Homo sapiens: one gene and its partners. The protein of the gene in region 1 purifies or fractionates together with the protein of each later gene. This does not show direct contact. Each region holds a gene or a part of one and is shown in the gene's direction. Other genes may lie near its edges. The genes, in order: ARID4A, SIN3A, BBX, SAP130, MIER1, BRMS1L and HDAC2.

What was found.
Region 2: the proteins of ARID4A (region 1) and SIN3A purify together in Homo sapiens (affinity purification with western blotting; 6 studies listed by BioGRID and IntAct, with this or other methods). This does not show direct contact.
Region 3: the proteins of ARID4A (region 1) and BBX purify together in Homo sapiens (affinity purification with mass spectrometry; one large-scale study listed by BioGRID and IntAct). This does not show direct contact.
Region 4: the proteins of ARID4A (region 1) and SAP130 purify together in Homo sapiens (affinity purification with mass spectrometry; one large-scale study listed by BioGRID and IntAct). This does not show direct contact.
Region 5: the proteins of ARID4A (region 1) and MIER1 fractionate together in Homo sapiens (co-fractionation; one large-scale study listed by BioGRID). This does not show direct contact.
Region 6: the proteins of ARID4A (region 1) and BRMS1L purify together in Homo sapiens (affinity purification with mass spectrometry; one large-scale study listed by BioGRID and IntAct). This does not show direct contact.
Region 7: the proteins of ARID4A (region 1) and HDAC2 purify together in Homo sapiens (affinity purification with mass spectrometry; 2 studies listed by BioGRID and IntAct, with this or other methods). This does not show direct contact.

What each region holds. Positions count from the first base shown.
Region 1 is NC_000014.9:58,357,087-58,361,539, forward strand, and holds part of ARID4A (AT-rich interactive domain-containing protein 4A), read left to right. Parts: intron 1-2,045; coding exon 2,046-2,130; intron 2,131-3,814; coding exon 3,815-3,956; coding exon of another isoform or gene 3,957-4,016; intron 4,017-4,453.
Region 2 is NC_000015.10:75,409,857-75,414,309, reverse strand, and holds part of SIN3A (paired amphipathic helix protein Sin3a), read left to right. Parts: coding exon 1-105; intron 106-1,264; coding exon 1,265-1,547; intron 1,548-2,566; coding exon 2,567-2,818; intron 2,819-4,023; coding exon 4,024-4,176; intron 4,177-4,318; coding exon 4,319-4,453. UniProt on the Homo sapiens protein: Acts as a transcriptional repressor. Corepressor for REST. Interacts with MXI1 to repress MYC responsive genes and antagonize MYC oncogenic activities. Also interacts with MXD1-MAX heterodimers to repress transcription by tethering SIN3A to DNA.
Region 3 is NC_000003.12:107,808,814-107,812,705, forward strand, and holds the end of BBX (HMG box transcription factor BBX), read left to right. Parts: 3' UTR 1-2,526; downstream 2,527-3,892. UniProt on the Homo sapiens protein: Transcription factor that is necessary for cell cycle progression from G1 to S phase.
Region 4 is NC_000002.12:128,010,107-128,014,559, reverse strand, and holds part of SAP130 (histone deacetylase complex subunit SAP130), read left to right. Parts: intron 1-1,405; coding exon 1,406-1,530; intron 1,531-4,166; coding exon 4,167-4,291; intron 4,292-4,453. UniProt on the Homo sapiens protein: Acts as a transcriptional repressor. May function in the assembly and/or enzymatic activity of the mSin3A corepressor complex or in mediating interactions between the complex and other regulatory complexes.
Region 5 is NC_000001.11:66,958,926-66,963,378, forward strand, and holds part of MIER1 (mesoderm induction early response protein 1), read left to right. Parts: coding exon 1-58; intron 59-753; coding exon 754-818; intron 819-4,162; coding exon 4,163-4,235; intron 4,236-4,453. UniProt on the Homo sapiens protein: Transcriptional repressor regulating the expression of a number of genes including SP1 target genes. Probably functions through recruitment of HDAC1 a histone deacetylase involved in chromatin silencing.
Region 6 is NC_000014.9:35,860,325-35,864,777, forward strand, and holds part of BRMS1L (breast cancer metastasis-suppressor 1-like protein), read left to right. Parts: intron 1-2,265; coding exon 2,266-2,362; intron 2,363-3,545; coding exon 3,546-3,629; intron 3,630-4,453. UniProt on the Homo sapiens protein: Involved in the histone deacetylase (HDAC1)-dependent transcriptional repression activity. When overexpressed in lung cancer cell line that lacks p53/TP53 expression, inhibits cell growth.
Region 7 is NC_000006.12:113,943,649-113,948,101, reverse strand, and holds part of HDAC2 (histone deacetylase 2), read left to right. Parts: intron 1-1,953; coding exon 1,954-2,094; intron 2,095-2,631; coding exon 2,632-2,740; intron 2,741-3,691; coding exon 3,692-3,822; intron 3,823-4,453. UniProt on the Homo sapiens protein: Histone deacetylase that catalyzes the deacetylation of lysine residues on the N-terminal part of the core histones (H2A, H2B, H3 and H4).

The sequences.
Region 1 (4,453 bases):
CATGAGACTAATCAACCAGTACTGTACAGTGTATTCAATAAATTACATGAGATATTTAAGACTTTATTATAGAATAGACTTTGTGTTAGTTGATTTTGCTCAACTCTAGGCTAATATGAGTGTTCTGAGCATGTTTAAGGTAGGCTAAGCTAAGCTGTGATGTTCAGTAGGCTAGATGTATTAAATGCATTTTTCGACAGGATATTTTCAATTTGTGATGAGTTTATCAGGACATAATGGCATCATAAGTAAAGGAGCATCTGTATAGGTAGTCATGGTACCATGTCAACTGAAATACATGCATAAAGGAACCATGTCCTTACTTTGTACATCTCCATGGTAACTGGCTTATAAAGCAAGAATATGGTTTCCAGATACATGAGTTTCTATTAATACGCTACAGTCTAAAACAAGTTTGTCCAACCTGTGGCCCACAAGCCATATGCAGCCCAGCATGGCCTGGAATGTGGCCCAACACAAATTCATAAACTTTCTTAAAACATGAGTTTTTTTTATTTTTTTGCATGGTTTTTTTTTTTTTTTTTAGCTCATCAGCTATCGTTAGTGTTATTTTATGTGTGGCCCAAGACAATTCTTCTTCCATTGTGGCCCAGAGAAGCCAAAAGATTGGACATTCCTGGTCTAAAGCAAGGACTGCCTGTTGTTTCTTTACTTAACTGTACATTTTTTAGATTTTGACTTAATTCTGTAAATACTTGTATATTTAGATAATGTAAAAACTGTTATTTAGTTCTAGAAACCTTAATTTCTTATTTGCCCCTGATTAGTCACTTGGACTATAGACAATCAAAAGTGATAGTAATCATTTGAGAAGGCCAGGTGCAATGGCTCATGCCTGTAATCCTAGCACTTTGGGAGGCTGAGGTGGGCAGATCACTTGAGCTCCGGAATTCAAGACCAGCCTGGGCAACATGGCAAAACCCGTCTCTATAAAAAATACAAAAATTAGCTTGGTGCAATGGTGTACATCCGTGGTCTCAGCTACTCAGGAGGCTGAGGTGGGAGGATCATCTGAGCCCAGGAGATCATGCCTCTGCACTCCATCCTGGGCAACAGAGTGAGACCCTCTCTAAAAAAATTGCCGGGTCCAGTGGCTCACCCCTATAATCCCAGCACTTTGGGAGACTGAGGTGAGCAGGTCACCTGAGGTCAGGAGTTCGAGACCAGCATGGCCAACATGGCGAAACCCCGTCTCTACGAAAAATAAAAAATTAGCGGGGTGTGGTGGCAGGCACCTGTAATCCCAGATATTGGGAGGCTGAGGCATGAGAATCACTTGAACCCAGGAGGCAGAGGTTCCATTGAGCCGAGATGGCACCACTGCATGTCAGCCTGGGTGACAACATTGAAACTAGCCCCCCAAAAATAAAAATAAAATTTAAAATAAATTTTAAAATAAATTTTTAAGTAAATGTTTAGGGGAAATGAGTTTTCAACTTAAGCTAAACAGAATAAACTTAGATAAAGTAGGTGAAATACAGATATCTCTAAAAAATTTCAGAATCCTAAAGGCAATGTAGTTCAGAAGATTTTATTGGAAATACTAGAGAGAGTGTTGAGGAGGAAAAGGAAGTTGAAATGGACTTGATAAAATAACTTGATAAAATAACCTGAAACTGATCACCTTGCAAATTTGAATTTATCTGACTTAGCTTTCTATTATTCATTCAATAGCACGAATTCTATTGCAGATCTGATTATAAGCTCAGGTCTGTAAAAGCTGTGGAAAACAAAACAGTTCAGATTGTCTTGAATCTAGAGTTTGCTTTCCAAGACTCTCCCTCTAAACCTGTTAACTCTTAAGAAATCCTCTTGCCTTTCCCTAGTGAGTATACAAAATACCTACTACAGTTACTGGCACATGTTACCAGCAAACCAGCCCCTGTGCCCTTCATATTCTTGCCAACACTAAGAACAAACTATTTAATCTGTCTCACTGTTGTTTTCGTTTGGTGAATACATTTCAAAAAGGTTATAATGTATAAAGTTTGTACAAACTCTTTTTTTTTTTTTTTTTTTTTAAGGTATGATGAGTGGGTGAAGGCTGACAGGATAATCTGGCCTTTGGACAAAGGTGGACCAAAGAAAAAACAGAAGAAAAAAGCTAAAGTATGTTTGTAGATTTATGTCCTTTATAATATGTATAGGAATTATCCAAATTGTATTGTGTGTTTTTTAAGACTTTAAGAACAGTTTTAGGTTTATACCAAGATTGAGAGCAAGGTATATAGACCTCCCATATACTCTCTGCCCCATGCATGCATAGCCTTCCCAGATTGTCAACATCCCCCACCAGAGTGGGATGTTTGTTACAACTGATGTGCCTACATTGACACATTATTGTCACTCAGAGTCCATCGTTTACATTAGGGTTCACTGTTGGTGTTGTATATTCTGTAGGTTTTGACAAATATATAATGACATGGATCCATCACTATAGTATCATACAGAGTAGCTTTACTGCCCTAAAAATCCTTTATGTTCTGCTTATTCTTACCCCCACCCCAGCCCCTGACAACTACAGACTTTTTCTCTCTCCATAGTTTTTGCCTTTTTGAGAATATCATATAATTGGAATCATACACCATATAGCCTTTTTAGATTGGCTTCTTTTGCTTAGTAATATGCATATACGATATTGTGTTTGTTTAATAAATCTTATTGTAATAATCATCTTGGCCGGGCATGGTGGCTCATGCCTGTAATGCCAGCACTTTGGGAGGCTGAGGCGGGCGGATCACGAGGTCAGGAGATCAAGACCATCCTGGCTAACACGGTGAAACCCCATCTCTACTAAATATAGAAAAAATTAGCCGGTCGTGGTGGCCGGCGCCTGTAGTCCCAGCTACTCGGGAGGCTGAGGCAGGAGAATGGCGTGAACCCAGGAGGCGGAGCTTGCAGTGAGCCAAGATCGCGCCACTGCGCTCCAGCCTGGGCGACAGAGCAAGACTCCGTCTCAAAAAAAAAAAAAAAAATCTTGATTCTTGACAGATAATTGTGATTTTCTCTTTATAACCCAGGAGCTTAAAACTAACACATTACCACATTGTTTCAGCAAAGGTGAAAACCAGCAACCCCTAGGGCATGACTTTCAAACTCAAATTCCTGTAGAGGCTTTATAGGAGAAGGATAAAGTAGGACGAACCGTGACAAACGAGAGGTCACATTCCTCATTTAGACGGAATGGAACTAACCACTCTGCTGTGGGAATGCAGACCCAGGGTTGCCAGATTTTAGGATTTTTCAAGACCACTATCTTTCTTAAAATGTGAAATTTGACTTTTAAATGCTAGAAGCCAATACTAAAATTTTAAAACACATATATACTGGCCAATTGTACCCTCACCCACATCCTCAGTTGTCAAGCTTTGCTGTAGAGATTTGCCCATTGTTTTGTCTACTGGATGATAGATATCTTTCCTTTCTGCAGGGGATAGTAGGGAACAGCGGGGAGTGCGGAATAGTTGTATAGTCTTCTAAAGCTCTAACTGACCATCACAATATAATTGCAGTATTACAAATTGTACAATATTGTATTTACATAAATACAAAATATGTTAGAAATTCAGCAGTGGAGGATTATATACCAATTTCCGTGACACTAATGTTAATAAGTTCTGATAACCTCTCAGACCAGCCAGAAAACTCTTCTTGATTCTTCTGTAAGCACAGACTAGGAAGTGACATATAAAATATCAAACCTTTTTTGAGATGTAGTTTTCTTTGGATAAGTAGAATGTTCATTTTTCGTAAAGCATTGGCCCTTCTCATACATTTTGTTGTTGTTGCCCAGAATAAAGAAGATAGTGAAAAGGACGAAAAGAGAGATGAGGAGAGGCAGAAGTCAAAACGGGGACGACCTCCTTTAAAATCAACCCTCTCATCAAACATGCCGTATGGCTTATCTAAGACAGCAAACAGTGAAGGAAAATCAGGTACCAGAAGTGCTCGCAGCAATATACCAGACAGCTCACCTCTGTCAAATGGAATGGAAGGTGCTCAATTTTGAGGATGGCTGACTTTAAAAAAAATCAATAACATAAATAATAAAACTTCCATTGTGTGAAATATTCACAGTACAGGTTGAGTATCCCTTGCCCAAAATGCTTGGGACTAGAAGTGTTTTTGGTTTTTGATTTTTTTTTTTTAATATTGCATATACATAATGAGATATCCTAGGGATAGGACCCAAGTCTAAACATGAAAATTAGTGTTTCTTATACACATAGCCTGAAAGTAATTTTATACCATATTTTTAATAGTTTTGTTCATGAAATAAAGATTGTGTTATTTGAACCATCAGAAATCACAGGTATAATTGTCTCAGCCACCCATGTGAACAGTCTGTGATTGTTTGGCATCACTGTTATTCTTGACTCTGAATTTATATGCCAGCTACTGATAAGCAATTTTCTTACACTTATTCACACAT
Region 2 (4,453 bases), on another chromosome or scaffold:
GGAGGATGCGCTATCTTATCTTGACCAGGTGAAGCTGCAGTTTGGTAGTCAGCCTCAGGTCTACAATGATTTCCTTGACATCATGAAGGAATTTAAATCTCAGAGGTAAAAGATGTGTGATTGTACTCAAGCTTTGTATCTGGCATATTGATTTTGGAAGGAAGAGGATATAGTTTATTTACTGGAAGATAAAGGATGCTCCTTTTTGCAGCTGAATTTTCAAAATCATGCCTTTATTTTATGCATACCTTTATTGATGGAAATTATGGCCACTAGACTTTTTTATCCCTATTGGTAAATTTTCCTTAACTAAATTTTTTCCAGTGTTTTGTCTCAATCAGGGAAGTAGCACTGGTAGTGATTTAGGCTACTTGGTTTCTGAATTGGTTTAGATACCCTTATATTCTGGCATGGTTCACTGTTGTAAGAGTGTAACTCATCTGAACAATGTAGATGTGTGCTGAAATGATGTATACTGGTATATCAAAGAGTGAATCTTGTTTGGGATATGTAGCTTTATATATATCATCTGAGTATCTGCTTGGTAGAATTATTACAATGAACATATATTCTGTTAAAAATTTTGACCATTCCAAAAATTAGCCGGGCATGGTGGCGGGTGCCTGTAATCCCAGCTACTTGGGAGGCTGAGGCAGGAGAATTGCTTGAACCCAGGAGGCGGAGGCTGCAGTGTGCCGAGATTGTGCTACTGCACTCCAGCCTGGGCAACAGAATGAGACTCTGTCTCAAAAAAAAAAAAAACAAATTGTGGCCAAGTATCTTTGAGTCTAAAACTAAATGGCTTTGGAATTTCAGAGTTCGTGTGTTAATTTTAAAATGCGTAGATGATCTGTTTTCCTGTTTAGAGAAAACCTAGTAGAAAGTGAAATTTTGAGTGAGGTGGCTCATGCCTGTAATCCCAGCACTTTGGGAGGCCAAGGTGGGCGGATCACCTGAGGTCAGGAGTTCGAGACCAGCCTGGCCAACATGGTGAAACCCCACCTGTCCTAAAAATACAAAAATTAGCCGGGTATGGTGGCGCATGCCTGTAATCCCAGCTACTTGGGAGGCTGAGGCAGGAGAATCACTTGAACTCGGGAGGTGGAGGTTGCAGTGAGCCAAGACCCCAAGATTGCACCATTGCAGTCCAGCCTGGGCAACAGAGTGAGACTCCGTCTCAAAAGAAAAAAAAACATGAAATTTTTTCTTAACAGGGTGTTTGTTAAGCTTACAGTTTATCACTTTTCTTTTTGTTTTTTATCAGCATCGACACCCCAGGAGTGATTAGTCGTGTGTCCCAGCTATTCAAAGGCCACCCCGATCTGATAATGGGATTCAACACCTTCTTGCCCCCTGGCTACAAAATTGAGGTGCAAACCAATGACATGGTGAATGTGACAACTCCTGGCCAGGTTCATCAGATTCCCACCCATGGCATCCAGCCACAGCCTCAACCACCACCCCAACATCCTTCCCAGCCTTCAGCCCAGTCAGCCCCAGCTCCTGCCCAGCCAGCTCCTCAGCCCCCACCTGCCAAAGTCAGCAAGGTGAGCACTTGGAAAATATTGCATCAATATGAATGCATCCCTAGAGAGCACCTTCCTTTGATGTTTCCCCTTTATATAAGACTTAGATACTGAGAAACAAAGTTACAAAGATTTCGTCATAGAAAAATGCTGTATGAAAACTTCACTATGACATGGTTCACATTTACACATCACTTACTTAGGTATCTATTTAAATCAACACAGCAACAACTTTCAAGGTCTTTCTTTTTACAGTTTCTGCTTATAAAACCATGAACATCCCAACAGGTGGTGACTTTGTGTAGTAGTAGTTGACAGCACAGATAGAAACCATCGTCTTATCCTGGTCAAATTGTGCTGCTGCCCACATGGTTATTTTATGAAAGTTATTTCACTAACTAGATTATATCAAGCTAAGTAGAAGATCTAATGAATAGTGATAGTGATGGTGATGAAGATGGGGTGTTCTTGGTCTAGAACCACACTGTCTGACACAGTAGCCACTAGCCACATAGGACTATTTAAATTAAATTCAGTTTTTCATTTGCACTAGCTTTCAAGTGCTCAGTAACCTCATGTGGCTGGTGGCTATGTATAAGACAGTGCAAATAAAGGACATTTCCATCATCTCAGTTCTACAGGACAGAGTTGGCGTAGAAGACTTTTTTATGTGGAGCTACTGCAACAGTTGTCTTGTTGTTGACATCAAAAGGCTATGTAGAATGAGATTTTTTCTATGTGTACTTGTTGAGCTACTAAGCTAAAACATTGCATATGAAAAATTCTTCCCTGTAATTGGAGATGGCTCCAGTTTTAAGGTTTTATTTAGAAAATGTGAGACTGAAATATTTGTATCAGCATGTTTGAACCGCCTACAACTCCCACTGCTGCCCAGTATGATTTGTGTTGGACTAAAATGACCTGGCCTGAGTGAGTAAATAAAGGATATACGTTGACACCTTGTTTCTCTTTAGTTTGAACTTTCCTTGTATCAACTCATCTATGCATCTGAAGAGAATAAAGATTTCTTTTCTTTCTAGCCCTCCCAACTGCAAGCACATACTCCGGCCAGTCAGCAGACTCCCCCACTTCCACCGTATGCATCCCCACGTTCTCCGCCGGTCCAGCCTCACACACCAGTGACAATCTCGTTGGGAACGGCCCCATCCTTGCAGAACAATCAACCTGTGGAGTTTAATCATGCCATCAACTATGTTAATAAGATCAAGAACAGATTTCAGGGCCAACCAGACATCTACAAAGCATTCCTGGAGATTTTGCACACATATCAGGTAAGGAGTGCCCATTCAGCCTGTCTTAACCAGGTCACCCTCTTAGGGCATCTAGTCCAATAACAAGTAACCATTATTGTGTCCATTAATTCATACTGGAAATTAACCAGTTAGAAACTATCATGCATGTTTTTAAAGCCAGTTTGTTTGTTTGTTTGTTTTTCGAGACGGAGTCTTGCACTGTCACCCAGGCTGGAGTGTAGTGGCACGATCTCAGCTCACTGCAGTCTCCGCCTCCCGGGCTCAAGTGATACTCCTGCCTTAGCCTCCCTAGTAGCTGGGATTACAGGCTCCGCCCACCACGCCCAGCTAATTTTTTGTATTGTTAGTAGAAATGGGATTTCACTATGTTGGCTAGGCTGGTCTCGAACTCCTGACCTTGTGATCTGCCCACCTTGGCCTCCCAAAGTGCTGGGATTGCAGGCGTGAGCCACCGCCCCCATGCTATAAAGCCAGTTTTATTTGCCTGACTTGATTGCCCTGCAACATTCAGTCAGGATTTTTTTTTTTTTTTTTGAGACAGAGTTTTGCTCTTTTTGCCTAGGCTGGAGTGCAATAGTGCAGTGTCGGCTCACTGCAGCCTCTACCTCCCGGGTTCAAGTGATTTCTTGTATTTTTAGTAGAGACGGGGTTTCAACATGTTGGCCAGGCTGGTCTCAGGTGATCCACCCGCCATGGCCTCCCAAAGTGCTGGGATTGCAGGCATGAGCCACCGTGCCCGGCCTCAGTCAGGATTGTTAGTCACTGTCCCATGAAATGAAACTCAGTTTTATCTGGGACAGTTAGATGGTGATTTATATAGTCTAGTTAATGTACAGTAGGAGGAGGAGAAATTTCTAAGGTTTTGTCAGTTGGTAGTGGTCCCCTGGGCATTAATATTTATTGCCCTAGGCCGGGCATGGTGTCTCACGCCTGTAATCCCAGTACTTTGGGAGGCCGAGACAAGTGCACTCCAGCCTGAGCAACAAGAGTGAAACTCCGTCTCAAAAATATTTACTACCCTAGTTTTGAAAGGAATTGTCATCCACCATCTTCAACTTTTTTTTTTTCTCAACTTGAAAGTCTGTGGTCAGAACGGGTGCTAAGAACATAGACTTTCTTCTTACATGCAGCCTAAATAGATAACAGTGATTCCAGAAAGCGTGCAAAGATGAGTGACTCAAAACAGTAGCCCAAATGATCTCTTTTCATTTGCAATTCCTCAGAAAGAGCAGAGAAATGCCAAGGAAGCTGGAGGAAACTACACTCCAGCATTGACAGAGCAGGAGGTGTATGCCCAGGTTGCTCGTCTCTTTAAAAACCAGGAAGATTTGTTGTCAGAGTTTGGACAATTCCTACCAGATGCCAACAGCTCCGTGGTATGTTTTTTTAATAAGAATTACACTATTTACTATTATTATCTTAGATGAGTTGGAAAACTGTGCTCAGAAGGGGACTTTTCCTAGATGATATTTGTTTGCTTTGATAAGAGCATTAATCTCATTCATGTGTCTTAATCAGCTTTTAAGCAAAACAACTGCTGAGAAGGTTGATTCTGTGAGAAATGATCATGGAGGCACTGTCAAGAAGCCCCAACTGAACAACAAGCCGCAGAGGCCCAGCCAGAATGGCTGCCAGATCCGCAGACATCCTACA
Region 3 (3,892 bases), on another chromosome or scaffold:
TTTCCCACAAATATCAGAAATATATTTATTTAATTCTGTCAGATGAGCTTTCTACCGATGCCATGTCCCAAAGCCATGTTAAAATAATTCCCACGTTATCATTGTGATTCTACTTCCTGCCACTAAAATTGCTGGAGAAACAAAATAATGATGGAACACTATGAACAAAAAGGAGCATCTGAACTGGTCTGGTTATTTAGAATCCAATGTGTTCAAATCCTTTTGTTTTCTTATTAAGTCAGATGCTACTGTAAGTCAGATAAAATTTTGTTTGCACTCTGCAGTCTTTGGCTCAATGTATGGAAATGTTTGCACCTATGTAAAGTCACAAGCTAATTACAAATTGCTACAGAACAGGAGTAAGCTGAAAACTGAATGCCATGTTTTGTTTATAAGGTGGGGAGGGGAGGGAAAATACCAAAAAACTCTGTTCCAAGTTTGGCATTTGACATTAATGTGAAGCAGTGGGACCATGCTGCCTGCTAAACTACTGTATGAATCGTAAATGTTCTGAAGACGAGCAGCTGGAGGCTGGAGGATGGCATTCCATACAGCAAAGGAGAAGCACCCACCACTTCATCTGGGAAAAGGAAGGAAATTGCAGGAGGCCTGGAGCCATCATTTGTAAAGGGGATGTTGCGGGGTGTGATGCTGTTGAGGAGATTCACCTTCAATTGCACTGCTCCACAGAGCCCTCATATAAGGCCAATCCTAATGGGCTACCTCGGCTTTAAAAGTTAATTTCAGTAAGTCCTGTTTCAAAAGTTTGTCTTTTTTTGCTTCTACCTTCAGTGCCACTATTTTCCACTGCAGTGTTTTGACTTCACAAACTGCCTCCTCCAGAGAGAACAATGTATTGCTGAAAATGGGCAGTAGAAGCAAATGCTGTTGTTACATTTGACCTATAAAGTATTCAGAGTGACTGCTAGGTAGAAATTAAAACTTAGCTTTCCCAAATAGCTCCTTATTTTGCACCTTATAAAAAGTATACTAATTGTTAATTAGATGTTGCTTTTGTTTATACAAGCATTCCCAAAGAACTAGATTTGGATTTTGTTTTGAGTTTTTGGATTTTTAAAAATTATCTTATTTAGATTGACTAACAGCATACTTACAATTTTAAAAGAAGCTGTTGTTCAGTTCATCTTACCAGATGTGTCTGGCGAAGTATTCAGGGTTTGATGGACTGCTTTACTTTCGTTTGGAAGTGATAGCTAAGTTTATTATACTCTATATTAAACAACTTTGTTCATTTCACTGAGGACCTTATCTTCCTTATATTTCAGAACAAAGAAGCAACAAGCGTGAATAAAAAGACAAATGTATTTGACTCCCTCATAATCCCCATCTGTATGTGCTACCCTTCCTTCAAATATATAAATGTGCATCTTTTTTTTAAAAAAAAAAAAAAAAAAGGTTCCTCTTCTGGCCAAATTTGATCTATGGTGGTATGATTCATACTGTTAAATTGAGAGAGGAAACCTTGTGGTTAAAAATTATATGGCTGCTGTTTTCTTTTTGCAGTCAGTGGTCAAAACTGATCATGTGCTTAAATCGATTTTTATGCACAGAACTAGTTATTGTGAACATTACTGCTCCCTCCAAAGATTTCCTGATAACTTGGGCCAGAGGTGGTTACTGAGTAACAAGGATCTAATTCAATGCCTCAAAACTCTTCCACCCACAATGCAAATCTTACCTCACAAGCTCTAACCTAAATCACAGAGACATGCATGTTTCATGCATTAACACTGATTTCGCTCTGTGGCCCACCAGAGGGGTGGGCTCATGTCCCCTGACTCCTCACATGAGTGCCTCAGCTCTAAGAGCCGTGGAACGGGGGGTAGGGAAGGTTTGCGATCTGGAGCTCAGCAACTGGCTCAGCAACGTTTTCTCCATTTCATTAGCACTAAACAAGTCTCTTGCTCTCAGGAATTTGTCAGAAAAAAGAATAAAATCACCTGAGACTCCACATACCAGATTATAAACTCTTCTCGTAGGTTTGAATTGCTTACTCACATGTCATAAATTAACCACAGCTTCATTTGACCACCAGGTCTAAAGTCTGTTGACAGTTTCAGCATGACTGAATCGCTCATTTTTTTTTTTTGCTTTCAGAAATTGGCTTGGTTCTCTTTAGAGTTGGTGTAAACATGCCATGTAATAAATGATTTCCACTTAATGGTACAACAGAATTATTGCTTTCTTAGATGTATGTGTAGTAAAAGTCAATATACACATTTATATAATTTCTTTCTTCAAAATCTTATACCTAATTTGATATTTCTAAAAATTGCACATGTAAGTCATGTGTATAACATGCTAAAGTACTTTAACTGTGATCTTAAAACTGAATAAAAATATTTAATAAAACTTTGAAATATTTTAAAGATATTATTCAAATATATTTCTTTATGTTCACACTACTGGCCGTAGAGTATGTGCCTTTAATGTACCATTTTCACTAAAAACAGTAGGAAAAATACTAATAAAAGTAAGATATTTCAACTATTTTAGAACATCGAATGATGTGTCCCCCTAAACTGTGTTTGCCTGTGATTTGCCATTGTCTGGACAGCCTTGGTTGCTTTTCCCAAAAGTGTAGAGTGATGATCAGCCCAATAGAAGAAGAGGATATGCTTCAGTACGCCACTTGGGTGAACGCTTCTGGGGTGCGCTTCTGGGACTAGTGATCAGAACACACCATCTTTCCCTGAACTGGGACAAAACTGTGGAAGCGATTTCATTAAGAGTGTTACCTAAGTATAAACTCGCACCTCAGATTTGGTGAATACAATGTTCCTAAGTTGTTTTTTTTAATCCTTTGGAAACTACACGCATGCATGCACACAGTATTAATTATCAACAAATAGACTTTGTATTCAGACAGTTCTTCTACCCATGTACCATTGGGTTTTTTTTAACCTCCCTAATTCAGATTTATTGATAGTGATGATACCTCCTCATACCATTGCTGTGGTGAAGAAAAGAGAGTATATATGAAAATATTGTCATAGGGCCTGTAGCATAAATGCCCATTAAATGGTAATTATTGATTGTATTGTTTTAATTCCAACTGTAAGGTTAGCATTTTTTTAAGTACATTCAAAAGATATGATGAGTATAACTATTCAAGATAAACTTTGATGCTGTAGAGATAAGCTGTTGCAGGAGATTTGATGGTATGGAAAACTCAGAATAGGTAAAAATTTGCACCCATTAACTCATAACTTTTATATGTAGCACTATGTAAGATTTTTCTATAAAATTAGCCTGTCTAATGAATTATACGAGATATTCCAGCACACCTCCTTTCCATTGCTGAGAATAAGATTGTGTGTGTGTGAGGGAGAGAGAGAGAGAACATGGGGTCCATACCAAAGATTAAAATTCTGTTAGGAAAAAAGTGACAGGATATACATAAGTGTAGTTTTATGGTCCTGTGTGTATTACACAATTGCACCGATCCTTTTGAATAGAACATAAAACCTATTGCAAGGAAAAATTAAGTGATTCTAATCAACAGTCAGCTAAAACATACTACTGACTCCATTCCATACATATTTTAAAAGGATTTATACTAAAGATAAAATTATGAATCATAATTTATCATAAACCTTTTTACCTTTTTGAAATTATAGGAATTTTCAAATACAGTATATGCAGAAGTAGAGAGGTATTTTGAACCCCATATACACATAATCTAGCTTCAACAAATAACATTTTCCCACTCTGGTTTTATCTGTGTCTGTTTTTTCCCTTTTACGTACCCCAGAAGATATGCATATCCCAGAAACATTTCATCTGAGAAAATTATCAGAGAAGCCTTTAAAAGTGAATCTTTTGGTACTCACAGATTTTAATTTTTTAAATATTTTCTCCTCATGATTCC
Region 4 (4,453 bases), on another chromosome or scaffold:
TTTGAGACCAGCCTGGGCAACATGGCGAAACCCTGTCTCTACAAAAATACAAAAAATTAGCCAGGTGTGGTGGCATGCGTCTGTAGTCCCATCTACTCAGGAGGCTGAGATGGGAGGATGGCACTCAGGAGGCTGAGATGGGAGGATGGCACTCAGGAGGCTGAGATAGGAGGATGGCACTCAGGAGGCTGAGATGGGAGGATGGCACTCAGGAGGCTGAGATGGGAGGATGGCTTGAGCTCGGGAGGCAGAGGTTGAAATGAGTTGAGATTGCGCCGCTGCACTCCAGCCTGGGTGACAGAGCGAGAACCTGTCTCAAGAAAAAGAAAAAAAATCGCAAGACAGTAGAAATAAACTTAGAGCAATCCATGTTTTTAGCATGGTTTAATATGTGCTTATTATAGTTGTATTACAAGTGTGTATATTTATGCAATTAAAGTGTTTAATATGGTCTAAAATTGTCCTATATATTGAGGAACTGCCCAAGCTTTGATAATCTCAACATGGTCTTTATTATTAGACTGCTTATCTGCAACATGGTCTTTATTTTTAATACATAAGTCACAAATATTAATACTGAATATTTTTAAAGTTCAGTGATGATCTTTACTCAGTTTTTTAACTTATGTAACAATAAAATGATGATGATAATTATTTTTTGAGATGGGGCCTCACTGGGTTACCCAGGCTGGTTTCAGATTTCTGGGGCACAAGCGATCTTCCCACTTTAGCCTCCTGAGTGGCTGGGACTACAGGTGTGAGCCACCACATGGCTAAGATTAATTTATTTTTACCCTTAAGTTCTAATAGGTTGTGAGGTAATAAATGAATTTTGACTAGAAATTTTTACCTTTTATTGGAGACTTTACAACAATTGGAGATTGTTGGCAAAATCAAGTTAGCAAACGCAAGACCAGGTTTGCTTGGTTATAGCATAACTCAGCAGTTCTCCAAATGTGGTTCACAGGCCCTTATGGGGGTCTGCAGGGTGAAAAGTGCAGGGTTAGGTTTAAGGTTAAGGTTCATAATGTGTCCCTTTGGCAATGTCGACGTCTGCTCTAATGGAACAAAGACTGGAAGGCAAAGTGTCCGAGCCTCGTCAGAGCTGAGGCAGTGGCATCACACTGCTGTTCCCTGTGTGCTTTACCACTGTGCACACTTGCAGTTAACAGAAACAAAAAACAGCAGCTAGTTTCACTTAAGGTTGTCTGTGAAGAGGCAATATAAATTATTATTAAATCTCTTGAATACACATTTTCTTTGTTTTCTCTGTGATGAAATGGGAAGTATACATACCATACTTCAGCTCGATATTGACATGCTATCTGAGTTTTGGGAAACATACTGATTATTTTCCCAGGGAATATAACTAGAATAAATATAATAAACACTTTTTTTTTTTCAGGTGCAGCTGCTGCTGCTGTGATGTCCAGTTCTAAAGTAACCACAGTCCTGAGGCCGACCTCACAGCTGCCAAATGCTGCTACTGCTCAGCCAGCAGTACAGCACATCATTCACCAACCAATCCAGGCACGTCGGAGCCTGGGGTGCATTAAGGGCCTCATTGGAGTTATTCATTCTGCCAGGCACTAGGCACATCCTTGACCTCAGGGACTTTCCATCTAGTTGCCAAGACATAGGGAAGTTTGAAAGATGCACAGTGTCATGTGGCAAGCTGTAAGAATGCAGAGGAGAGATGGTGGGAAGCCTTCCTGTTGGAAAGGCTGTGCTAACGAGGAATCAGAGAAGTGAAGAGGAAGTGAAGGGGGAAATGAACAGTGGCAAGGAAGGGAGTGATGGTTGTAGACAGCAGTTAGTAAAGGCTAGCTAGGATTGAGGGATTTTAATTTGGATTGGGGGGATCTGTGGACTCCTAAAAGTTAGGTGTATATCTATGTATATTCCAAGAACATGGTCCATGCCATTCAGCTTTTTCTTAAGGAAATCTATGACCTCATTATTACTGAAGTATAATATATTTGCAGGAAATATAGTATCTATAAATTGGGTTCTCTAGGATATGGAGTATAAACTAGACTTTATATACAGTAGAGAGCCACTGCGTTTTTTTGTTTATTTGTTTTTGTTTTTTGAGACAGTCTCACTCTGTTGCCCAGGCTGAAGTGCAGTGGTGCGATCCCAGCTCACTGCAACCTCTGCTTCCTGGGTTCAAGCGATTCTCCTGCCTCAGCCTTCCAAGTACTTGGGACTACAGGTGTGCACCACCATGCCCGGCTAATTTTTATACTTTTAGTAGAGACAGGATTTCACCCTGTTGGCCAGGCTGGTCTCGAACTCCTGACCTCAAGTGATCTGCCTGCCTCGGCCTCCTGAAGTGCTAGGATTACAGGCGTGAGCTACTGTGCCCGGCCAAAAATCATTTTTGTCTTTTTAACACAATGGCTCTGTGTATCATTAAAGTAATACTGTTGAAAGATGAGATTAGGCCAGGCGCAGTGGCTCACACCTGTAATTCCCAGCATTTTGGGAGGCCAAGGCGGGCGGATTGTCTGAGATCAGGAGTTTGAAACCGCCTTGGGCAACATGGTGAAACCCTGTCTCTACTAAAATGCCAAAAAATTAGCTGGGCATGGTGGTGCGTGCCTGTAATCCCAGCTACCTGGGAGGCTGAGGTGGGAGAATCACTTGAGTCCGAGAGGCAGAGGTTGCAGTGAGCCAAGATCGTGCCACTGCACTCTAGCTGGGACGAGAGAGTGAGACTCCATCTCACAAAAAATAAGAAAGATAAGATTAATCTAGCTGAATCACATACAGGAGGTCTGTCCCCTTAAGCACTTTCAGGGGACAGACAGATGTATGAAACAACTGGGTTTAAGATAATAAGGAAGTCTTGATTATGATACTGGGTAGTATCTGTCTAGCCTACAGCTTTCAAGATAAATACTTTTCTGGCCAAGAAAACAGAGTCGGAGGAGTATTAGGCCTCTAGTAGTATATGTGATACATATGAAGGGTTGGAGGAAGACGAGAACCAAGACAAGGAGCTCCCGAGTGAGGAAGCTGGTGCTGTAGCCCTAGTGTGAGACACGCACCTGCACATGGTAGAAGCGGCAGGTAAAAGGGCTGTAGATGAAAAGCAAGGATGAGGAATGGGCAGAGCTCGGCCATTTAGATGCATGTTTCAGGGTTAAGAGCAAGGGAAGAATCAGAACTCAGGTGATTCGAAGAATAATGGTGGGTATGTGGATGAAGCCCAGTGTGGAGCTTATTTTTTAGAGGAAGATTTCACACGTAAGTGTGATAAGGGCACTCTGTCCATGTGAAAACATCCAGAAAGGATATGGGCACCCTGAACGATTACCTAGAAAAGAATACTGTTACCTTGAGTTGCCCTTGTACTCACTAACGTAGATGGCCTGAGAGCCAACAGCTCTATTCAGCAGCTGAGTAGGCCCTCTGTGGAGGTGCTGGGTTGGATGGCAGCGTAAAATGTCTACACCAGGACCAACAACAGACCTGTGGCAACTCTAGATTGAAGGGTGAGATCCCATTGGTACCAATAGTAGGGCAGAATTTTGACTCCAATCACATTTGTACAGGAGGGACTCATGTACTGTTCAATCAAAATGGGATTTTTTTTTTTTTTTCAAAACACTTGTCAGTGGTATCTTAAGGGATTTTTTTTTTTTAATAATTCTGACTCTTAGTCTTTTTTTTTTTTCTTTTCTATTTTTTCAAGACAGTTTCTCTCTTGTTGCTCAAGCTGGAGCGCAATGGTGCGGTCTTGGCTCACTGCAACCTCTGCCTCCCAGGTTCAAGCGATTCTCCTGCCTCAACCTCCTGAGTAGCTGGGATTACAGGCGCGTGCCACCACACCCGGCTAATTTTTTTTGTATTTTTAGTCAAGACAGGGTTTTACTGTGTTAGCCAGGCTGGTCTTTTAACTCCTGATCTCAGTTGATCTGCCCACCTCAGCCTCCCAAAGTGCTGGGAATTACAGGCGTGAGCCACCGTGCCCGGCCTGGCTCTTGGTCTTATAACAACCTATCTGAAAAGAGAATTCCTTAATTGGAATGGTGAGAATTTATTTTTACTTGGGCAGAAACATGCTTATCTGTAGGCTCAAGTTTCAAATTACACATTTAGTATTTGACTTCCTCTATTTTATTTTTGTTTTAAATGAACTGTTTTTTCTCTTTTGGTAGTCTCGGCCACCTGTGACCACCTCCAATGCCATCCCTCCTGCTGTGGTAGCAACTGTCTCAGCCACCAGAGCTCAGTCTCCAGTCATCACTACGACAGCGGCGCATGCTACTGATTCAGCACTTAGGTATACATGGGGAGTATGAAGTTTGAACCTTCCTGCCATCCTCCTCCTTCACTCTTTTTTCTTTCGTTCCTTCATTTAAGTAAATATTTATTGAGTGGCTTTTTTTTTTTATAATGAGCTATGTAGTGTTCTAAATCCTGGGGCTAAAGCTGTGAACAAAGA
Region 5 (4,453 bases), on another chromosome or scaffold:
GCTTCTCAAGATGCCCAGGAAATAATCCGCCCACGTCGATGTAAATATTTTGATACAAGTAAGTGTTACTGGTTGATAATATTTGAATATAATTTTTACTATTTTAGGTATTACCTAAAATCCTCTTTTTTAAACTGGTCTTTGAATTCATTTAGTCTGAAATTCTTTTCAACAGTAAATGGATTTTGTTGTAAGTTATTAGTTTAGCAATGCAGGGTCCCTGTTGTTAGTGAATATACTATGGTAATTGTGTCATGTACTACTTGACTTTGGGTGTATTTGTTTTTTCTTTGCCCTGTTTTTAAATGTTTGTTTCATGGTCATCTTTTTGTTTCTCATAGTCTTTCCCTTAGTTTCCATTTTTTACTTTCTTTGCCTCTTAGCCTTTTTTAGGTATATTCATAAATACACCTAAATTTCTCTACTTTAAAAGGAAGAAAAACACTTGAAGAAAAATAAACTGTCATGAAATATGTAGTAAGATAATATTATCTTTATTCTAAATCAGTTTTTTCCCCTAAGTTTTTATAGGAAATCATTTCATGAGAATACAATTATGTAGAAAGTTTATGGTTTTTTTGGTTTTGTTTTTTTAAGTGATAGGGTGTTAATTATTTGGTTAGAAATATCTTGGCTTAATTCATTAGATATCTTTGAGCATATCCAAATATTTGATGGTAGATGTAAAAATAATATGTAGATTTAGACAGGATAAGCAGTCATTTTATAGTATTGGTGTCTTATTTATTCTAGATAGTGAAGTAGAAGAAGAATCTGAAGAAGATGAAGATTATATTCCATCAGAAGACTGGAAAAAGGTAGTTAGAACAATATTTTCCCAAAATTTAGATAAATTAATATTTTTTTAAAAAGCCTCGTGTAATTATTTTTTTTTTTACTAACTATGTATATTGATAAAATCGATGTAAGCCCTTTTATGACATTTAAATGTTTGGTAAATGTTCAGATTCCTTCTTAACACATCTAGGTTAGATTAGAAATCTACATTTCTGGCGGGGTGTGGTGGCTCACGCCTGTTATCCCAGCACTTGGGAGGCTGAGGCAGGCGGATCGCTTGAGCCCAGGAGTTCGAGACCAGCCTGGGCAGCGTTGCGGGACCCTGTCTCATTTTATAAAACAAAACAAAAAATAAATAAAACAGAAATCCACATTTCTGATTTAGTCCTGAACTAGTGCCAAATTAGGCATTTGTTGCCCTGTAAAAAGTATCACGTATATGTTTTTCAATATTATGGAAAGCATTTGTGGAGGCTTTGATATTTGTTAAGTAAATTTTGTTTAGTAGTTCATATTGCAAGTTTTTCATTCTGTATTACTTTATAAAAGAAAAACTCTCCAAATGATTGAATTTAATGTTGACATTTACAACTGATAAGCTTATTATATGAAGAAACAGATTTGGCTTCTTCGTAACTATATACAATTAATTTCTGAAATGAATCTAAAGATAATATATTGAGATTAGTTTTTAATTATAAAATTATATAGCATATAATTAATCATACAGTTAAGTTAAAGAATTGTAAGTTATTGTAAAAGAACTGAGCTCTTAGGAAAAATCTATCTAAACATTATGTAGAATTAGCTGGTTGCAGTGATGTTTCCCCTGTTGTCCCAGCTACTTGGGAGGCTGAGGTAGGGAGAATCACTTCAGCCCAGGAGTTTGAGACCAGGCTGGGCAACATAGTGAGACCCCATGTCTTCAAAAAAATTTTTTATGTAGAACTGGTTAAAACAAAGAAATAATGTTATTTTTGTTGAGAGACAAGGTTAGCCCAGTTTACGGTATGTGTTAATTTGAGCAAATGATGGGACTCGACAGAAAACAAGAATCACAAAAGTTAATTTGTGTGGCCTATTTGGGCAAGGGTTCTTTCATCCTGTTTTTAATCTGATTCCTACAGTGTGCAGAAATTAAGATGAAAAAAGCTAGAAACCTTGGGAGTCCTTATAAATTGCTGTCCCACTTCATATTCAAGTTTATGTATCTTCAACATGTGTTGTTTTTTAATCTGGAGTGTTCAGTAGAGTATTTGATTAAGCATTCAGTGTTTTTTTTTTAAATGAAAGAACAAAAGCTCAGAGGTAGAACACCTCTCATTGCTGGAGGGTATTAATTACCCACACCTTACTCAGAAAGGGTATTAATTAACCACACCTTTCTCAGAAAAAAATTATGTAATAAAGCAGGCCAGAGTAAATGCAGATTGTTTTCTTTCAGTATGATTTTGTTGTTTTAAATAATTGTCAAGGTTCAGAGATTCATTTTTTTTTAAGACTTATAAGATGAAATTGAGTTTTTATAGAAACTTAAGGTAGGGGAAACAGTTTTGAAGTCAAACCTGAATTTTAGTTGTAGCTCTAGAACTTAGTAATTGTGTGCTCCTGAGAAAATCAAATTTTTGAGCTTCATCTTCTTACATATAGTATGGGAATAACAATGTCAGCCTTATGGGGCTTGCTGAAAGATTAAAGGAAAATTGCATATATGATATGTTAACACATAATGATCTTCAAAGCTATTTCCCTTCCCTTCCCTGTACTACCGAACAAATTAACAGATGAAAAGAAATGTTCAGAACTGAACAGGAAAAAGGAAGTACCTATCTTTAAACTAATCCAGATGTTCTCAACCCTGTTTTTATGTTAGAATCATTTGGATAACTTAGATGTACTGACTACCAGGGCCTTCATTCATAGATTCTAATTTAATTGTCCTGCAGTGGATCCAGGCATTGATGGTTTAGAAGCACCCCAGCCAGGGTTAGTAACTTGACAATGTTCTTTGGTAGGCCTAGGTGAGTTAAGTTAAAAGAGGCACAAGATGTGACAATAAAGGACTCTTTTTATAGTAGAAGACATAAAGAGAATTCCATTGTAAGGGTAGAGAAAATTTGTTGTAAGTTTGATTCTTTTTAGAAAACTGATCATGAGAAAGATTGGTTTTTCTTATGGGTATAGAAATAACTTTATTACATAAAGCACGTCTTTGAAGTTGTACTGGATAAAATGAGCTCCTCACATCAGTGAGGTAACAATAGCAGGAGAGAGACTTTCCAAATCCTAAGAGTTACCAAAACTTCTAGACCATGATTTTGTACCTTTCATGCCCAATTTTGAAAATGTCAGTAAATGTGTTCTTAACATTTAGCCATCACACAAAAGAGGGTTCATGTAATCTTGGTCTCCTTGCATTGTGAAATTTCACCAGTGGTAGTTTGCAGTTGCTTTTGAGAACATCCAGTTTCACCTAATCTGTGATTTGACTGTATAGATATGATTACTGGATTTCCTATTTAATTATATTTGTGGGAGGAGGTTACTTTTTCATTTTGTATTGTTTTAATGAAAGTCAAGCCATAACCTGCTTATCTATTTCATTTAGAGTTTCTTTCATTTGGCCCCTACTGAGCTTTATACAAACCCTTTTTGTTATTTTTCCTACTTTGAAGCTCTGTTTTTCAGACTTCAGTCTATGTCAGAATCACCTAGAGAGCTTGTTAAAATACCAATGACTGAGTCCTGTCCCCAGAGTTTCAGTAGGTTTGGGGTGGGACCTGAGCATTTGCATTTCTAACAGTTTCCCATTAGCTGTGTGTGGTGGCATGTGCCTGTAGTCCCAGCTACTCAGAGACTGAGGTGAGAGAATTGCTTGAGCCTGGGAGGTCGAGGCTGCAGTGAGCCATGATCACTCCAGCCTAGGTGACAGAGCAAGACCCTGTCTCAAAAAAACAAAAATTTCATAGATGACACTGATGCTGCTCATATAGGGATCATATTTAAGACCACTGTCTTAAGTGTAGATACTCTGAAAATATCTGAATTTGACTTTGTGTTTTACATGTTTTGCAGTTGTCTTACTAATGGAATTATCAGAATTCACTTCTTTGTCTCTATATTTTGAAATAAAGTTTGTATTTATTGTTTACGTTGCATTTCACCTCAGTATTATTACTAATATTTTCATCCAGTCATTATTTGTCATTCATCTTCACAAAGGTACCTCTGAGGTAGTTAATTGGTTGTTTTTGTATTTTATGACAGAGAAACCAGGAACAGTTTACTAAGATGGTAAGGCTAGAAAATGGATATAAAATCTGTTACTAGATCTTACTAATGTTTTATGTTATTTTTAAAATAGGAGATTATGGTGGGCTCCATGTTTCAAGCAGAAATTCCAGTTGGCATTTGTAGATACAAAGAAAATGAAAAAGGTGGGTTATTAGTAAAGTTACGTAGCTGAATTTATGCTTTCAGTGTAATGAACTGTTACTTTATATGTAAAATGTGATAAGAACATGACAGCCTACTAAGTAACCCCATTGTAACCCCATTGGTTTGTGAAAGAGGACCCTTCATTATTTCTGTGAGAAGAATGTGTGTACTCAATTTTTTCAGTTTGGTCTATAGAAGCCTAGCCAAAAAAGGAAAA
Region 6 (4,453 bases), about 22 Mb from region 1:
ACGAGGTTTCACCATGTTGGCCAGGCTGGTTTTGAACTCCTGACCTCAAGTGATCCACCTGCCTCAGCCTCCCAAAGTGCTAGGATTACAGGCATGAGCCACCGTGGCTGGCCTAAACTCATTTTTCTCTTGTCATTTATTGTCAGATTCCCAGATGATTTAAAAAGTCACCTTTGTCATTTCCGCATAGCCAGAGTCTGTTTCTAAGTTTTAAAATTCTACTCTGCATTTTTTTTATTCCAGTGCAGTATGCTTAAAAAAAAAAAAAAAAAACTATTGTAGCGTTTTAATGGGTCACTCTCTGATAATAGCCTATGAAAATCTTCCAGGGCTCCAGTCCTGATAGAAGTTGAGAATTGTGAGGTATGTTAAGTCAGGGAACTGCCAAAGAGGAGTTGGTTCTGAATACAGGTCAGTGTGAGGTCGGTACAATAATGGAAGCTTGGGGCCACTTTCCTGGGGCTTTTTAAAGCTCTCCTGATGAGAAACAGCATAGGCGTCAGCCTGGGAAAGGGGTTATTAGTGAGCAGGATCAGTAAGTCTAGATGTGAAGACTAGAGGGATGTGGGATCTTGAGACCAAACCTATACTTATGAGTAGTATTTTTTTAAAAACCAAAGTAACTATTGAACATAGAAAACTCCACAGCCACCAAAGCAAGAGAGTTAGCCCCCTTCTTTTCCAGGTATCTTCTAGCTGTTCCATTAGGGCTTCATTTTCCATTCAGGGGAGGTTTTTGAGTGTCTTGAGAAGCTGGAGAAAAGGGAGAGAACTTTCCAAGAAAAAGAAAGAGAAATAAGAATGAGAATGGATTCATGGCAGTTTAAAGTATACTTCTGATATTTTTAGAGATGCCTTCAATGCTTCAAACATTTCAGTTTCATTGTGGCTTTTTAAAAAATAATAAAGAATGATTAGTGGATTTTTAAAAGAATTTCTGCTTGGCCTAATTTGTCAATAGGAAGAAAAGAGAATACACCAATTAAATGTTCATATCCTTAACAGCAAAAGGCTTATCACTCCAGCTCTGTATTTAGAGTCATCTTTGGTTGGGGAGATTGGATCTATTTATAGCTGCTACCACGGTCTTGTGGAGGGGAACTGCTCTCCCTTTTTCTCTGATATTTTCCGAGTTTTGCAGCACAATATAGATAAAGCTGGAATATTTCATAAGACTTTACTAAAGGCAAGGGAACAAGCAAAAGGAAGTAAGCAGAGAGAACAGCATGCAATGAAACCATGTTTGATATGAAATCTAGTTTTAGTTTTCAGCTTTGCTTTCTCCTTAGCACCTGGCTTGCCTCAAGTTTGTAAGCCATCTTTTCCCTGACACTCAGGAAACCCTTCAAGCATGTATAATTTCTAAATTTCAGACTCAAGAGAGAGGGCTTCATGATTGACACCAGGAATGCAGCCTACATGGGTGTGGCCTGTGTTTTCTACATGTAGTCATATCCAACTATATCCCAATAGCTTCCGCAAGACAGTCATATCTGCTATATCCAATTATCTAATATCCTTCACTAGAGGTAAACATGTGGCCATAGGTTTTTTTGTGTAATTGATCTTTATATATTATGTACATTTTATGGCTTTTTAAATTAGGGCTACAGTATTATATAATTAAAAACATGGACTAGAGCTAGTAGACCTGGGTTCTAGTCTATTTGCCAGTCTTGTATGTTGTAGCAATTCAATCTGTCTATGGTTTTGTAGAAAGATTTGGATATGATTAGTCTGTAATTTTATAATTTAGACTATAATTGAATTATTTTAAATAATCATAAAATTTGTACTTGAATCTTTCTCTTTGCCTATTTTAATATGATGCTGAGATATTAGTGAGGCATAATGACCCAATTATTATTCCTGTGAGAAAATATGATCCATTTTATAATGATATACTTTATAGGATAAGTTTTCCATGATGGTGACAGATGGGACCTACTTAAATTTAAAAGGGGCCATAGGGGTTTGCTATGAGTTTTTTATAAAGTAAATATTTACCTCTAAATGTACATCAGACATAATTTAGATGCTCTTATACAGAATGTAATTGCATGTAGTTAAATCTATATATAGATTCTATATTTTCTAGTTTTATTTCTTTCATGTATTTGACATTTCTTCTTTAGAATTTTTAATTGAATTGAAAAAGCAAACCAAAGCATCATATATTAAAGTACTTTAAGTTATTTGGTACTCTTAGTTAAGATACACCAATTTTTTTCTTTCTACTTAAGTATAATCTGTTTTTCTCCCCAGAGCGAAAAGCTGTTGCTATATGATACAGTCCAGAGTGAACTAGAGGAGAAGATAAGAAGGCTTGAAGAGGATAGGCACAGCATTGATATTACCTCAGGTAAGGAGAATGATATGATTGTGATGTTTGAGTGGCACCAGACCTTTGGTTTACTGTAGTGTCATATCGTATCTCAGTCTTCTAATATTAATATTATGTAAATGAAATGTCCCAGCAAAGGAGAAAAGGGGAAGAACTCTAAAGTGATGGTGATTATATTGTTATTGTTATTTGAATTCACACTTTAGAAAGATGTAAAAAATGGAGCACACGACAAGGGACGAAACAGAAGTATGACAGGAACCTACTGGCAGAATAGTGTCAGGGCTGGATGTGGTGCTGCACATCTATATCTACAGTCCCAGCTATGCAGGAGACTGAGGCGGAAGCATCCTTTGATCCCAGGAGTTCGAGATTGCAATTGCAGTGAGCCATGATGGCGCCACTGCACTCCAGACTGGGCAATCTTGTCTCCAAAAAAAAAAAGAATAGTATTGGAAATTAGCTATAGTATATGTTTTTCCTTGTAAGTCTTGAAAGACTGTTATGTGGAAGAAGGAATGAAAACCTTTTTGACATCATACAAGGTAGGACAAACTGATAGAAGTTATAGGGAGGTAGATTTTTGTTTCAGAAAAAGGAATAACTTATTAATGATTAGATCAGTCCAGTGTGAAATTGGCTTTTTCAGGGTGTTACAGAAAGGTTTTTTGCATTGAGTGGAAGGTCTACTAGGTTATCCTACAGTTCTTGAGTATATATTACTTTATCTGTTATAAAGTTTAGTTCTCTATAGGGTAGGCATGGTGGAGTCAGATAAGCTGAGCTCTAGTGCCAGTGCTCCCTCACCTACTAGTCTGGTGACCATGGACAGTTACTTCACTTTTCTAAATCAATCTCCTTGTCTGTAAAAGGAAAGTAATAAGAATACCTACCTCAGTGGTAGCTTTGGGGATTAGGTGAGACAATGCATGTAATATACATTTTACAAAGTGCATGACAATATGGTAATCAGTTCTTAGTCATGAAGTGCCAAATTGATTTTTGCTTTAATAAAGGCAGAGCAAAACTTAAACACGTAGTGCTCATGAAATTATGTACAGCTTAATCTATATATACCCAGCTGCCAATGAAGTTTTTTACGTTTTTACATGTAACTAAATAGCCACCATAAAATTAGAGTCTTTTTTCCTCCTTTGTTCACCAGAAACCCACTAATACTTAATCTTTATTTACCTGCCAGAGCTGTGGAATGATGAGCTTCAGTCAAGAAAAAAGAGGAAGGATCCTTTCAGTCCTGACAAAAAGAAGCCAGTTGTTGTTTCAGATATCCTTTTCCAAATTTTCTGTTTTTTTTTCCTTGATGTGCGTTTTTCCATTGTGCATGCCTTTATAACTTTTATTTGTAAACACTGACTTTATTTGCATGATCCTGTAATAAGCAAAAGATGATTTATTTATAAAACCGATTGAAGACAGAGGATATAGTGTATACTTTAGGTCAGGAGAGGTGGCAGAGGAGAAGAAATTCAATCATGATCTCAACTTTGAAAATTAATGTGACTTGTCGTTCACCAAGGGCTTTGATGTGAAACAGTCGTTTAGTATACAGTATGATTGTTTAATTCTCATGTGTACTTTTTTTTTCTTTTTGAGACAGGGTCTCACTGTGCCACCTAGGCTGGAGTGCAGTGGCACAATCATGGCTCACCTTAGCCTCAACCTCTCGGGCTCAGGTGATCCTCCCACCTTAGCCTCCCAAGTAGCTGGGACTACAGGCACGTGCCACTCGCCTGGCTAATTTTTGTATTTTTTGTAGAGATGGGGTTTTGCCGTGTTGCCCAGGCTGGTCTTGAACTCCTGGGCTTAAGCCTGCATTGGCCTCCCAAAGTGCTAGGATTGCAGGCATGAGCCACTGTGCCTAGCCTCGTATACTTTTTAAAAACATTTTTAAATGTTTCCAAAATTGGAGTGTAAATTAATACGTATATTCAGTTTCGGCATTCTCTATGGTACCATCCCTCTACCCCCATCTTTTCCCCTCCACCTTAAAAACCAGTGATTGTGTTAGTGATGTATATTACAATCAATGATATCATGGAATTAAGGGCATGTAGTTATGACATCAGAAGTACTAGACTGTATTTATGC
Region 7 (4,453 bases), on another chromosome or scaffold:
ACCATTCTGGAATGAACTTCTAGGGTGTAAGAATAAATCTGAAATTTTATTTAATAAGATATTATAATGTATATGTAGATTAGAAATGATTTTTATCATGAGTGTTTGTGTATGATTTTAGAGGTTTTTTTCCACGTGAACTTTTAGGTAGCAAGTTGACAGTGTGCTTTGTATTCTCTAAGATGTGGAGAATTCTCAAATAGAACTTTCTCCAGAACAATTGCTGGTCTTAATGGAATTGGATAACTAAATACAGATATTAAAAGCTTCTTTATTTAATGTTATGATTGCTACTATACCAGCTATATTAGAATTATGGTATAATCTGTTATTCTATGTTAAGTGGAATGATATTAAATTAATTGTCCCTTTGTAGGTCAACAGTGGTTGAACCGCAGTTTCATATTGTAACTTAATGTGTTAATAACCATCTTTTGCCTCAAAATGTTTATAAACTTTCTAAAATGATCTACCTAATGTACTCTTAAAAGTGTATATTAACTATCAGTTTTCCTCTTTGACTTGAAAGTCCTTAATGTTTTTGTACTTAATATTTTTTATAATCATAAACTGCAGCAGTTCACTCTTAGAAAAAAATTTACTTTGTATTTCAGCTAATAGAGTTTCAGTTGCATAAAGCGTGTAAGGATATTTGTAATTCCAAGTCTTAAACTTCATTCTGAGTTTCTCTGCTGCCAGCTTTGATTCAGCTTTTTCAGATCTGCTGAAGTTAGTTATCTCTTTTCCATCTCCTTGCTGCCATCAGCTATGTTCTTCCTCTTGTATTGTCTCCCATTCTTCATTTTTACAAATTTTGGCCTTTAAAAAAATCCCTTTCGAGTCATTTTTGTCAAGTTTTGGGATGAAGGAAAAGTAAACATCTTTGTTTAGCCAGCTATCTTTACTTGGAAGCCTGTAAGTTAACTTTTAGTATGTTTGTTTTTTCTTTAAAAATATCCAAATGGTTTTTATCTGTTAAAAGAAACTTTTCTAGTAGCAATAATAAAAATTGAGTGCTAGAATTATGTAAATCACATGTTGCAACTATTGAAGAATGCTTAATGAAAATTCCCACAGTATACAGTTACATGAAGAGAACAGATAAACTTTGTAAAATTAACTCTGAAATGGAAGGAAATATAGAAAAACGATTTTTGAATAATGTCATTTTTAGGTGGTTAGTTTTTTCATTGTCCCTTTTTAATTTTTTCCCAAATACTCTTCAGTATGCACAAATGTCTTTTGTAATTGAAGGATTTTCTTTTCTTCTTTAAAGATTGAGTTATGTGCCTAACTGGTAATATTCCGAGAAGGGAACTTACTGGAAACTTATAAATGTTTATTGAATTATGACATTTATCCACATAAAATATTTACTTTTATGTTAGGTTTACTATTAATATTAAATTTCTACACGTAGAAGTTGAAGTTTTTGAAAATTAATAGATGTTTTTAACTCTTAAGTTAGGAAAACTACTCAGTACCACTACCTAAAGTTAACTCAGGGTTAAACTATGTTGTTTAGCTTTCCATAATTATTTTACACATGTCCATAGGGAAAGAAAAGTCAATAAAAATTAATTTAGATGATACATAATGTTTTATTGTAACATGATGAATTTCACCATGTAACCCTACATGAACATCTTTCTGTGTTAATAAAATAGGTGTATATTCATATTATAATCTTAATATAGTTGTGTACTTGACTTTTCCATCAGGGACACCTGCTAAAATAGCTAGTTATATCTTAATTTTTTAATATGTATTATTGTATAACGTGTTTGGAAAGGAGTTTTAGACTTGACATTTTTTACATTTTTATTTGTTTTTAAAATATTTAGAAAACCCATTTTGGTTGAGTAACATTTGCACTTATTATCTTTTTAAAATTTATTTTTCGAACTGTTGCAGTATGCAGATTTTGTTGTTACCCAAATCTTCTTGTCTTAGGTCATGCTAAATGTGTAGAAGTTGTAAAAACTTTTAACTTACCATTACTGATGCTTGGAGGAGGTGGCTACACAATCCGTAATGTTGCTCGATGTTGGACATATGAGACTGCAGTTGCCCTTGATTGTGAGATTCCCAATGGTAAGTGTTCTCATTACAATATCTTTATTGTATGAACTGTCAATACAGATGCTCCTCTAATTATGTTGCAATTAGGTCCTGATAAACCCATCATAAGTTGAAAGTATGATAAGTAGAAAATGGATATAATACACTTAACCTACCAAACATGACTTAGCCCAGCCTACTTTAAACGTGCTCAGAACAGTTAGGTTAGGCTTCAGTTGGACAAAATAATCTAATACTGAGCCTGTTTTATAAAAATAAAACGTTGAATATTTCATGTAATGTACTGAATACAAGACATTGAAGTTGGTACAAAAAAGCCAGAAAACTGTAAGTCAAGCCATTGAAAGTCAGAGACTGTCTGTATATAGAAATAGATGGATGAATGATTAGAGTAAGTGCCATTCTTTATAAATAGGAGAACATTCACTTTGTGTTCACTTTTAAACATTTTCTTAGGAAATATTTCACCACCTAAATCTGGATTCTGTGCATGGTTTTTTGTGAAAACTGAGCTTGTAATATGTAACTTTATTTTATTGTTTTCATTAGAGTTGCCATATAATGATTACTTTGAGTATTTTGGACCAGACTTCAAACTGCATATTAGTCCTTCAAACATGACAAACCAGAACACTCCAGAATATATGGAAAAGATAAAGTAAGAAATCATTGAATTGTTTTGATAAACATTTTATCTTGACAAAGATTTAGTATGCTTTAAAGGGCCAAGTATGATGGGTCTTTTTAACTTTATTAGATATTTTGTTTTTTTCTAAAGGATTTGAAACATTAAGTTACTGATTATTCTTTTTTTTTTTTTTTAATTTTTAATTTTTTTGTCAGGATGGGATATTGCTTGGTTGCCCAGGCTGGTCTCGAACTCCTGGCTTCAAGTGATCCTGTCACCTCTGCCTCTCAGAAGTGCTGAGCTTACAGGCATGAGCCACCGTATTCAGCCATTTAATTTCTTCAGTTAATGGAAATAATTTTTTTTATTAGTTGAAATGTATTTTAAAATTGCAAGGTGCACTATAAGTTATTTTCATTGTCTGGAACATTTTGTTAAGGCTTTGTCTCCACAAGCAAAGTAGAGACATTATAGTACATAGCATGGGTTTGAGTCACCTCTGTACCACAAACAAGCTGTATGATGTTTGATAAGTTCACTTGCCTTTGTGCTTATGTTTTCTCATCATTGAAATGGCAGGCTAAAATAATGCCTCCTTGGCCAGTCAAGGTGGCTTATGCTTGTAATCCTAATGCTTTGGAAGTCCGAGGTGGGAGGATAGCTTTAGACCAGTAGTTTGTGACCAGCCTGGGCCATATAGTGAGACCTTGTCTGCAAAAAATTTAAAAATTAGCCGGGCATGGTGGCATACACTTGTAGTCCTAACGCGCAGAGGCTGAGGCAGGAGGATTGCCAGGAGTTTGAGGCTGCAGTGAGCTATGATCTTGCCACTGCACTCTAGTCTGGGCAACAAAGAGAGACCTTTTAATATATAGGTTTAGCTAGACCAAAGATGAAATTTTTTGCTAAATATTTTCTCTTGCATGTAAGAACTGCAAAGAAATTTAATTTTGTCTAATAAACTTTGCATGTGTAATTTAGACAGCGTTTGTTTGAAAATTTGCGCATGTTACCTCATGCACCTGGTGTCCAGATGCAAGCTATTCCAGAAGATGCTGTTCATGAAGACAGTGGAGATGAAGATGGAGAAGATCCAGACAAGAGAATTTCTAGTAAGATAATGCCTTTATTTTTCCAATTTGTCAAAATGATAATTGAAATGGAAGGTTTTAGTGGCCTAAGAACTTCACTATAAAGTCATGTTCACGAGCACACTGTTAATATTGTCATTTTTGCCACTTTCAGAGATTTAGCTTCCTGATGTCTCAGAACCTGATTTGGGTGTCAGCAGTTTCAGTTTGTATGGCTGGATATACATATATGATTGAAAGTTTTCAAAAATTAGCAACTTTAGTATATTTGGAAATTAATAAGACATCTCATTTATCTAAAGTAGGGTGAACTAAATAACTAAACATCTGTTTGATTTTACAACTTCTCATTACACTTAATGTGATGGTTAGATTGTAGCATAACAGTATGTGTAATGGTATAGACTGTCTAACATATTTGGTATTGGTACTTTTTTTTTGGTCTACTTCACCTCTCAGCTCTGAAATAAAATGCTACTTTTTAAGTAATGACATTATTCCCATCCCCTATTAGAAAAACACACTTTTTTCCTTTAGAGTTTCAGCATTTTTAAAGAAAAAGAGATTCCCCCAATTTTTATTATGTGTTTTTGAGCCATTTCTTCATACATGAAAGCAAAGTTTTCAATATTAAATAAACCATTCATTCCAT